2 linked regions of the Homo sapiens genome follow. The protein of the gene in region 2 interacts with the protein of the main gene of each other region in a biochemical or structural test. Each region holds a gene or a part of one and is shown on either strand. Other genes may lie near its edges.

Region 1 (5,122 bases), on a different chromosome or scaffold from region 2:
TTTCCTCATCTGAAAAATAAGGATAACTGGGAACAGTGCCTGAAATGCTTTAAGTGCTTGACTTGTTCAACAGACATTTATTGAGTGTCTATTGGATAATTCATTTTCCTGCTCATAAACCCAGGACACAGATTGTTAACACAGGGAAGAAATATACTCACTCAGATTATTAACAGAGGGAAGAAATATACTCACTCAGATTCCCAATGTACTATTTCTCTAGTTGGCCTGGGACTTAATCTTGAGACACTAAGAATATCATTTCTTTTTCTCTACTTTGAGGCTCAAGATTTTTTCCGATTTGCCCTGAGACTTAATTTTTTTTTTTTTTTTTTTTTTTTTTTGAGACGGAGTCTCACTCTGTCGCCCAGGCTGGAGTGCAGTGGTGTGATCTCGGCTTACTGCAACCTCCGCCTCCCGGGTTCAAGCGGTTCTCCTGCCTCAGCCTCCTGAGTAGCTGGGACTATAGGCGCGCGCCACCATGCCTGGCTAATTTTTATATTTTTAGTAGAGACGCGGTTTCACCATATTGACCAGGCTGGTCTGGTCTTGGACTCCTGACCTCGTGATCTGCCTGCCTTGGCCTCCCAGAGTGCTGGGATTACAGGCATGCGCTGCCGCGCCCAGCCGAGACTTGATATTTTAAACCCTCTTCCTTGAAACCTTAAAGGAAAGGCAGAAATAGGAACTATTTTCAGCATGTGAGATACACAAACTAGTTCTTTGCTTTAATGGAGCGTATGATCCAACAGCTAAGACAGATAATAAATGAATAAATCAAATATTTTATTTCAAACAGGAGTCATGTGATAGAGTACCTGGGGGTGGTCCTGTTTCCTGTTAGATCATATGTTCTTGTGAAGATCTGGGGGAAGATGTTTCCAAGCAGAAAAAGAGCTCTGATATGGGACGGAACTTGGTGTGTTCCAAAACTGAAAGAAGTACAGCATGTCAGGCATGGAGTGAGGGCAATGAGTGCTAAGAGAAGGAGTCATAGGAGAGGTGGACTGGGGCAAGGAGCCTGAATCACACTGAAATGGCAACGAGAAATGTCCAGTTTTAAGCCAGGGAGTGATACGACTTGTGTTTTTAAACGACCCCTCTGGCCGGGCACAGTGGCTCATGTCTGTAATCCCAGAACTCTGGGAGGCCAAAGCGGGTGGACCGCTTGGGCCCAGGAGTTTGAGACCAGCCTGCACGACACAGTGAGACCCCATCTCTTAAAAAAACAAACAAAAAAACCCCTCTGGGTTGGGGGGCAGGAGGGATGAATAGGAGTCAGAGCACAGAAGATTTTTAGGCCAGTGAAACTACTCATATAATATAATGGTGGATACATGACATTACACATTATCCAAACCCATGACATTATACATTTATCCAAACCCATAGAATGTAAGAGTGAACCCCTAAGGTAAACTATGGACTCGAGGGATAACGATGTTCCAACACAGGTTCATCGACTGTAACAAATGAACTATGTGGTGAAGGATGTTGATGAGAGTGGAGGCTCTGCATGTGTAGGGGCAAGAGGTATACAGGAAATCTCTGTAATTTCTTCTCAATTTGGCTGTGAACCTAAAATTGCTATATTAAAAAAAAAAAAGTCTTAAAAAAATAAAAGACCCCTCTGGCTGCTCGGAGGAAAAGGACTGGGGTCAAGGGTGTCCTCAGGTGGCCCGGTTAGAAGATGACTGCAGCATGGGTCCAGGGGTGAGATGGCAGTGATTTTAACAAGGGCGGCTGCTGTGGAGGCGGGAGAACAAGGTGGAGGCTGGAGGTGGGGCCAACAGGACTTATTCCTGGATTTGGATACAGAGTGTCGGGAAAAGAGAATGAAGAGTGGTTTCTAGTTTTGGGAATGAGCCTTTGGGTGGATGGTGGTGCCATTTACTGAGACGGGAGGAGGAGAAGGAAAGAACTAGCTTGAAAGAGACATATCAAGGATTGCATTTTGTTGTGTTAGGTTAGAGATCCCTATAACGCCCCCACTGGAATGGTAAGGGGGCAGTGGGGCACATGAGTCTGGAACACAGCAGAGAAATCAAGGCTATGGACATAAATTTGGAAGGCAGAAGTGCATAAATGGTAGGCAATGCCTCGAGATAGTTGAGCTCTCCCTAGAATAGCCAAAAAAGAGGATCCAAGGACGAGTCCCAGGTCAAGAGCATAAAACAATGAATATCAGTTGTTGTTACTATTTTCAGTACATTGAGAAGGAGAATGTTGGCCAACTACTGTTACCAGCATCTTTTCATCCATCTATTTCCCCAGCCATGCTGCCCTCCATTCATACCGTGAACAATCACGGAGCACATTTACTAAAAGGCAAAAGAGAGTAGTGGTCCATATGCAAGCTCTAGAGCCAGGCTGCTGTGTGTAAATTCCAATTCTACCAACTCCTGGCTGTGCAACCTCAGAGAATTCCGTAACCACAATGTATCACCATTTTTCCATCACAAAAGGGGTTGTACTGTGTTGAATAGTAGCTCCCCAAAAGATATACCCACATCCCAAAACCTGCAAATGTGTCCTCATTTGGCAAAAGTGTCTCTGCAGATGTAATTAAATTAAAAATCTCAAGTTGGAATCATCCTGAATTATTTGGGTAGCCCTAACTCCAATGACAAATGTCCTTATAAATGAGACACACAAAGTAGAGACATGCAGACAAGAGAGAAGACACAGACACACAGACAAAGCAACGTGAAGACAAAGGCATAGACTGGGCTGAAGCAGTGCAAGGAATGTCCACAGCTCCCAGAAGCTGCAAGAGGCAGGGAAGGATTCTCCCCTAGAGCTTCCAGAAGGAGCACGGCCCTGTCAACACCTTGATTTCAGACTTCGGACCTGTGAAGAGGATACTGTGAGAGGATAAATTTCAGTTGTTTTAAGACAACAAGTTTGTGCTAATTTCTGACGGCAGCCCCAGGAAATGAATATGGGGTAATAACAGTATGTACCTCATCAGATTATGAGAACTGAATGAGCTGTATGTGGCAAGTGTCTAGAACAGTGCCTGCCAAATAGTGAACATTCAAATAATTTTAATTTTTACCCATGTACTAGGCATTGTACTGGATCCTGAAGAGTACAGGGGAAGAGGCAGTCTTCAGAGATCCTCAAGATAAAGACGGAGCCTGGGAAGCTGAGCAGGTGAGGGATCAGAAGGCGGGAAGTGTGCTCAGGGGCCGTGTGCATCTCCCAGGTGCCAAAAATAGTGGACTGCAGCTCCACAGCTGCCACCAATAAAGAAATCAATAAGCCTGACATCTGCTTAGGTTTTTAAAGATGAGCAGTAAGTCCAGAGAGGAGTTAATGCAATTCTTTCCAGTACCTTCCTCTCCTTGTGCCATCTCACTGCCTGCTCTCTCTTGGGAATCCACGCTGATGGGGACACTCGGAGCACATTTTCTGGAGACAGCTGTCCCTTCTTTCGGCCTAATGATACTGGGAATTAAGGTGGCCAGGGCGGGGTAGGAGTGGAGAGTGGGCAGTGGCAAACTGTGGAGGAAAGCTATGCCAATTTTGTATGCTGAGTGGTTTTGTAATAATATTTGCATGGCTGCTTTAGCCTTGGAAGTGAATTCTCTTCATCAGGAGACCCATATAGCACAATCTAGTTTTACCCAAATCTCCATAAAACACACTGTGCCAGAAAGAGGGTGTTGGGCGGGTGGTGGGGGGTGTTCAACTGAAAACACAGCTGAAATCAGACATTTTATAAGTGTCCATTGGCCAACACACAAAAATGTAGAGTTTATTGACATCTTGCTTTATTAAACAGAAAAAGAAAAAGAAACCTTCGTGCTCTTGGAGAGAGTGTATGATTCCATTTGATCACCTGCAAGCAAACATAAGCAGTGTCAGGAGCTACTTAGTGTTCATGACGTGGAGGGGTCAGGTTCCTGAAGACATTTGTGGTGGCTCAGTCCCTGGAATTCCTCAGGGGTAAGGGGCATTACTAGGTGTTCAAACTTGTACCCACCAACCCAAGATATTATGGCTACCCCAAAATACACTTGCCTCTCCAGTCTCCAGAAACAGAGTCTTCTGGAATACTGGAATTACAGTAACATCCCAGGACGTGTAAACAGGACAAGCCAGGTTCACCTTAGACAGGCATCGGAAACATGCTGGCCTTTGGTGAAAGGGACAAAAGAGTTGGTGTTTATTTTCTTCCGCCTAGGTATCCTGAGATCTCCCTAGGAGTGACAGTAGTGAGAAGGCCCCCCCGCAGTGCAAAGCTCCCTGACACCCTCTCTCCTCCCACCAGCTGCCTGGGGATGCCCGGAGGCCTCCCATGTAAGGCAGCCCAGTTCCCCACCCCCTTCCCCCTACTGAGTACACTGAGATCCAAACTTACCATCTCTCCCACCCTCCTCCCAGTACAACTCCCACTGCCTGAGCTGGCAGGTCCCAGCCAGGGAATTGACTTTGGGGTAGCCACAGCACAAAGCGTGCCCCTGCTCACGGTAGGAATACTAATTCTACACTATATGAGTGCTGCCTTTATTTTTAGCCAAGCAGGATGATGGCTGTCCTGAGGCCAGGACAACAGGGTCTGTTGTGTTAACTTGGATGATAAAGTCTAGGGCTTGTAAAGCCAAGTACTAGAGGTGTCCAAGTGTTGGTAAAAATGAGACCAGCCGGGCACAGCGGCTCACGCCTGTAATCTCAGCACCTCGGGAGGCCAAGGCAGGCGGATCACAAGATCAAGAGATCAAGACCATCCTGGCCAACATGGTGAAACCACGTCTCTACTAAAAATACAAAAATTAGCTGGGTGTGGTGGCACGCACCTGTAGTCCCAGCTACTCAGGAGGCTGAGGGAGGAGAATCACTTGAACCTGGGAGGCAGAGGTTGCAGTGAGCCAAGATCGCGCCACTGCACTCCAGGCAGGGCGACAGAGCAAGACTCCGTCTCAAAAAAAAAAAAAAAAAAAAAGAGACCAAGAGTAACCCCTCTGAAATCCATTTCGACTCCTGCTAAAACACCTCAAAGAACCAGTCTGGGGCATCACTGTGTTAAGGGCCAAATATGCCATGGACGCCCCTTCCTCAGGAAGCTGTTAAAACCATAGATCCTTAACTGGAATGAGCTAAGTTTATTCCTCCCTGA
Region 2 (5,122 bases):
GAGATGGGAGAGAGGAATTGGAAATATTCTGTTACGAGATGCCTTCATGATACATGAAATAGTATAGTGTTATTTGGAGGTAGATTTGTATTATTACAAATGTATATTATAAAACCTATGGAAGCTATTAAAATAGTTTTTTCAGGTATAAATGATATATCAAGAGAGGAGATAAAATTCAGTCATATAAAATGCTCAGTTAAACCCAGAGAAGGCAAAATGTGAATGAAAAAAAAATTAACAAAGAACAGATTTAACAAATAGAAAACAGTTACCAAGTATGTATTTTTCTATTCTTCCTTTCAGTTCTCACAGTTTTTGCCCCCTATATTTTGCTGCTCTGTTGTTAGGGATACACATGTTTAGAATCATTTGTTTTTGGATAATTCACTCTTTTTATCATTGGGTAATGCCCTCTTTATCTCTGGTTATCTTCATTGCTATAAACTCTGCTTTGTCTAAAATTAATATAGCTACTTCAGTTTTCTTTTGATTTGTGTTTTCATGGTTGCATAGTTTACATCTTTCTTCATCCCTTTACTTCTAACTTATCTGAGTCTTTATATTTTAACAGGATTTCTTGTAGATAGAATATTTGAGGATCTTTATTTGTTATCAATTCTAACAATTTCTGTCTTTTAACTGGTGTGTTTAGAACATTCACATTTAAAGTGATTATCAATATAGTTGGATTAAAATCTACCATCTTTTAACTTTTCTTTTGTGGTAAGCCTGCTGGCAGTAAATTCGTATATATGAAGGGAAAATTGAAGGACAAAAATTGAAAGACAATAAAGGCTTTCTCAAGTTATAGCTACAGCTTGAAATTTTACAGTCTTTCAGTTTTGTCAATAATTTTATTGAATACAGAATTCTAGGTTGGCAGGGGTTTTCTTTCTTTCAACACCTTAAAAAGTTCACTTTTCTCTCCTTATTTGCATGGTTTCTGATAAGAAGTCTGCTGTAATTCTTATATTTGTTCCTCTGTAGGTATTTTCTTCCTCTGGTTTTATTGAAATGTTCTTTTTGTCTTGGTTTTCTGCAATTTAAATATGGTATGCCTAGGTGGCTTTTCTTTGTTTTTGTTTTTGCTATTTATCTTGTTTGGTGTTCTCTGAGCTTCTTGGATCTGTGGTTTGATGTTTGTCATTAATTATGGAAAGTTCTCAGCCAATTTTTGAAAAAAATATTTCTTGTTTCCTATTCTCTCTGGCATTCTGGTCATGCACATGTTACACCATTTGATACTGTCTACAATTTGGGAAAGATCTGTTAATTTTTTAAAATTCTCTTTCTCTTTGCATTTCAACTTTGGGAGTTTCTATTGACCCATATTCATGTTCACTAATTATTTCCTCAGTGGTGTGGAGTCTACTGATGAGCCCCTCAAAAGCATTCTTTGTTATAATTTCCTTGATTTCTAGTATTGCTTTTTCATTCTTTTTATAGTTTCCATCTCTTTACTGACATTACCTATCTTGTTTTTATTTTTTGCTGCATCTACATCTTCTGGTAGATAACAACTGATTATCTTCCAGAGATGAAATTAATGAAACATTTAAATATCCTGCAAGTCAAAAACTTTAAAAATGTAATGTGTCTTCACCTTCCACTCCTAATTTAAAATGCTTTCCCTTTTTTTCCTCTTGTCCAAATTTCTTGATTGTAAAGAAGCCCTAACTCTTGGGTTTTATTCTCTCTCACATAGAAGGATTTACACAACAAGCCCTTCAGAAATACTGAGGCATACTTTAATCATGGGACATTTTATTTAGGTCACTCCTGGCAAGGTAGATGAAGACTTGAGCTTCTTTTTCAAATATAGTATCATATCAGTACAATTCCATATCTACACAAATTAGTTAGCAAGACAGGCTTTTAAACATTTGACTGTGGGGAAAATTATTGATGTACCTTTATATTATCCAGGAGCTTCTTTGTGGAGGTGTTGGGCAAACCATGTGGATCTGTGCTATTCACCATGACTACCATTGTGAGGTTCAGGCACGCACGCTGTGCTGTTATTATAACATTACAACAGTGCACAAGGAAAGACAATCCATAGCGAAAGGAACAGAAACCTGGAACTACAAAGTAAAACAGAAAGTCGCAATTGCTGACAGAGCTGAGATAAAAACATACTTTAACTATAGGAGGGACATTCAGAAATTTGGAGCCCTAGATATTAATTTAAAATTTTATTGTACTTAATGACCTTTGATAATTATTATATAATAAGAAGATGTGAGACTGATATAATAATACCATATTCTCCTTAAAATTGTATTTCCAGCTAGAAGTTCCAAGAAAATCAAGCCAATCTTTCAAGTTCTTTGGCTCAAGTCTATTTTTTAAAAGACCCTTTATAAATACCCTGTGTTACTCTTGGACATAAGTCCCCCTAATTACAACAAAGACATTTTCTGTCAAGAAAACTATTCCTTTTCCAACATTTAAAAAATACTCTGGTTGAAAGACTTATATATGCCCAATGCAGAGAAAAAAATGGCATTTTAAAAAAATGTAATTACTTATTGATATAAGCTAGAGTAATCAGTTGGTGTACAGCCAAACAAGTTCATTGATGGAAGAAAGTAGGGAGTCCAGAAACAGATACACATATATGGTTAACTTTTTAAAAATAAATGTACTAATGCAATCCATTGGAGGAAAGTAAAGTGTTTTTCAACAAATGGCATTTTTTTCAAGAGAAATACAGGTATATGTCTACAAAACAACACATACAGAAATGTTTATAGTAGATTTATTCAAAATAGCAGAATGTTTGGAAAGAATGGACATATCATGGTATGTTAATACAATGCATATTACTCAGAAATAAAAGGAAAGAACTACTTATACACAACAATTTGGATAAATCTGGATGAATTTCAACAAAAACATGTTCAGTTAAAGAAGCTAGATACCAGACAGTATATACTATAGGAATCTAGTTTTATGAAGTTCAAAAACAGGCAAAGTTAATCTATATGGCCCCCTCCATCTCCAAAATCAGCAATGGGAACCTACTTTATGTTGAATCCCTCTCACACTTTGAATCTAGCTACTCTGCCTCTGACCTGTACAACCAGATTTAAAGGGCTCATGTGATTAGATCTCTCCTAACTGCATAATTTCGCTATTTAAGATTAACTGATTTGGGACCATAATACATCTGCAAAACCCCTTGAAGCAGCACCTAGCTTAATGTTTGCTTAAATAACTGGGAGAAAGTGTGTATACACCAGGGGCTGGGAATCTTGAGAGAAAACTTAGAATTCTGCCTACTACAGTCCACCATCTGGCCCTTAAAGACTCATGTTCATTTCACGTGCAAAACATATTCACCCATTTCAAGCTTCCCAAATTCTTCATCTTATTACATTATCAGCTCAAGTTCAAAACCTCATCAAAATCTCATAGCACAAAGTCCAAAATCTCATCATCTAAATCAGGTGTGGAAGAGGGGCCTATGATTAATCCCTCCTAGGGCACAATTTCTATCTGTGGGCTTGTGAAACTAAAGAGACAAGTTATATGCCCCTAACACTTTTACCACGTAATGGTGGAACAGGTGTAGGATAAAGCTATAGACATTCCAGTTCCAAGGTGGGAAAAATAGAGGAGAAAAGGAGTCATCGATCCATAAAGGTTCTGAAGTTCAGCCAGGCCAATGTTGGATTTTTCATAAGGTCTGGAGATAATTCTTGTGGCTCTTGGCTCCACCCTCTGGGCTTTGGGCTGTATCCTCTGTGCTCATTGTTCCACCCAAGAATAAAACAGGGGCCAGGGAGCTTGGGTGCCATCTTGGAATTCTGTCTACTGCACATTCATAGTTAACTAAGAATTTTTTATTGCAAATAAATATTAATATCATAAATAAATAGATTTTTTATATCTATTGAGATAATCATACTGTTTTCCTCTTTCAATTAATTTGTGTGGAGTGACATGTATACATTTTCTAACATTAAGTTACTCTTTTATTTTAAGAATAAACCTGACTTAGTGTTGGTGGTTGCTTTTTTAATGTTTTTATAAATTCTTAGATTTGTTTTGTTCTGTTAATATTTTATTTAGGATTTGGTGTCTTTATAATTTTCATAAGACTATTTTGCTTTATATATTGGAAGCTATTTTATTAGATAATAAATATTTTACATCATCTTACCGAATTGAATTTTATATCATTTTGCAACATTCTTATAGAATCGTTTGAACTAGCAAAAGACTGTAAACAAATTAGATGTTTATAAATCAGTGACCATTTAAATAAATTATAATATATCCATCCATACCAAAGTCATTTGCAGCTATAAAAATGCTAAGGAAAATCTCTGCCAAAAATTGTGGAATACTCTTTAGATAAACTGTTAAATGAAAAAAAGCATTAGTACCCAACAAATAGTTGGCTAGTTTTCTGGCCAACTGAGCTTCCGTTGTTAAAAGATAAGAATATTAGATAAAATATGCTTAAAATAAACCATTTTTTTAAAAGCATGGGTGATCTAAGAGGAAAGATGAAATATTCAGGCCAAGGGCTTAGTGAAGATGGGGGCCTCAAAACATAAGTTGGGCCTTGAAGTCAGATGTTTCACTGTGGACTTTTGATCTTGGGATTTTTGGCCTTCCATGATATGGGGACAACAGGAATCAAATACCAAGGTCCTAGCGATGCGATAGTGTATAGTAGGAGACCCTCTCCTAAAATGCTTGGATGTCAAAGATTTACATGGTTCAATGGAGGATGAACACATTGCCCCCTTATCTTGTCAGTGGACTGCCAAGAAATTTTGTGCCATATGAACTTAAGAGCTGAATAGAAGGGGGTAAAAGAATACCCCTGAGAAATTTAATCATCAGCCAGCCCTTCCTTTGATTTGCTGCCTAAACTCAGTATCATAGGGAAGTGAATGGATCTAGAAAGCTATCAGAAACTTTGTAAACACACCTGCAGGAGTCTCTACATGGTAAAAGGGAAGTCATTGTCACCATGTCAGAGAAGGGCTCATTGTCTTAGTCATTTAGGGGTATGCTTTTGAGTTTTACTCATTTCTCTCCTCCACATTGCTCCAGGAAGTCCATGAATTATGTCTAAACAAGTTTTAAGTTAAAAAGAAGA

Evidence for each region. The genes of interacting proteins can lie anywhere in the genome.
Region 1: the proteins of SLC17A1 (region 2) and PDZD2 interact in a test that uses a peptide from one of them, tested with the Homo sapiens proteins (one large-scale study listed by IntAct).

Annotation. Positions count from the first base shown.
Region 1 is NC_000005.10:31,645,160-31,650,281, reverse strand, and holds part of PDZD2 (PDZ domain-containing protein 2), read right to left. Parts: intron 1-5,122.
Region 2 is NC_000006.12:25,824,547-25,829,668, forward strand, and holds part of SLC17A1 (sodium-dependent phosphate transport protein 1), read right to left. Parts: intron 2,088-5,122; coding exon 1,915-2,087; intron 1-1,914. UniProt on the Homo sapiens protein: Important for the resorption of phosphate by the kidney. May be involved in actively transporting phosphate into cells via Na(+) cotransport in the renal brush border membrane. Plays a role in urate transport in the kidney.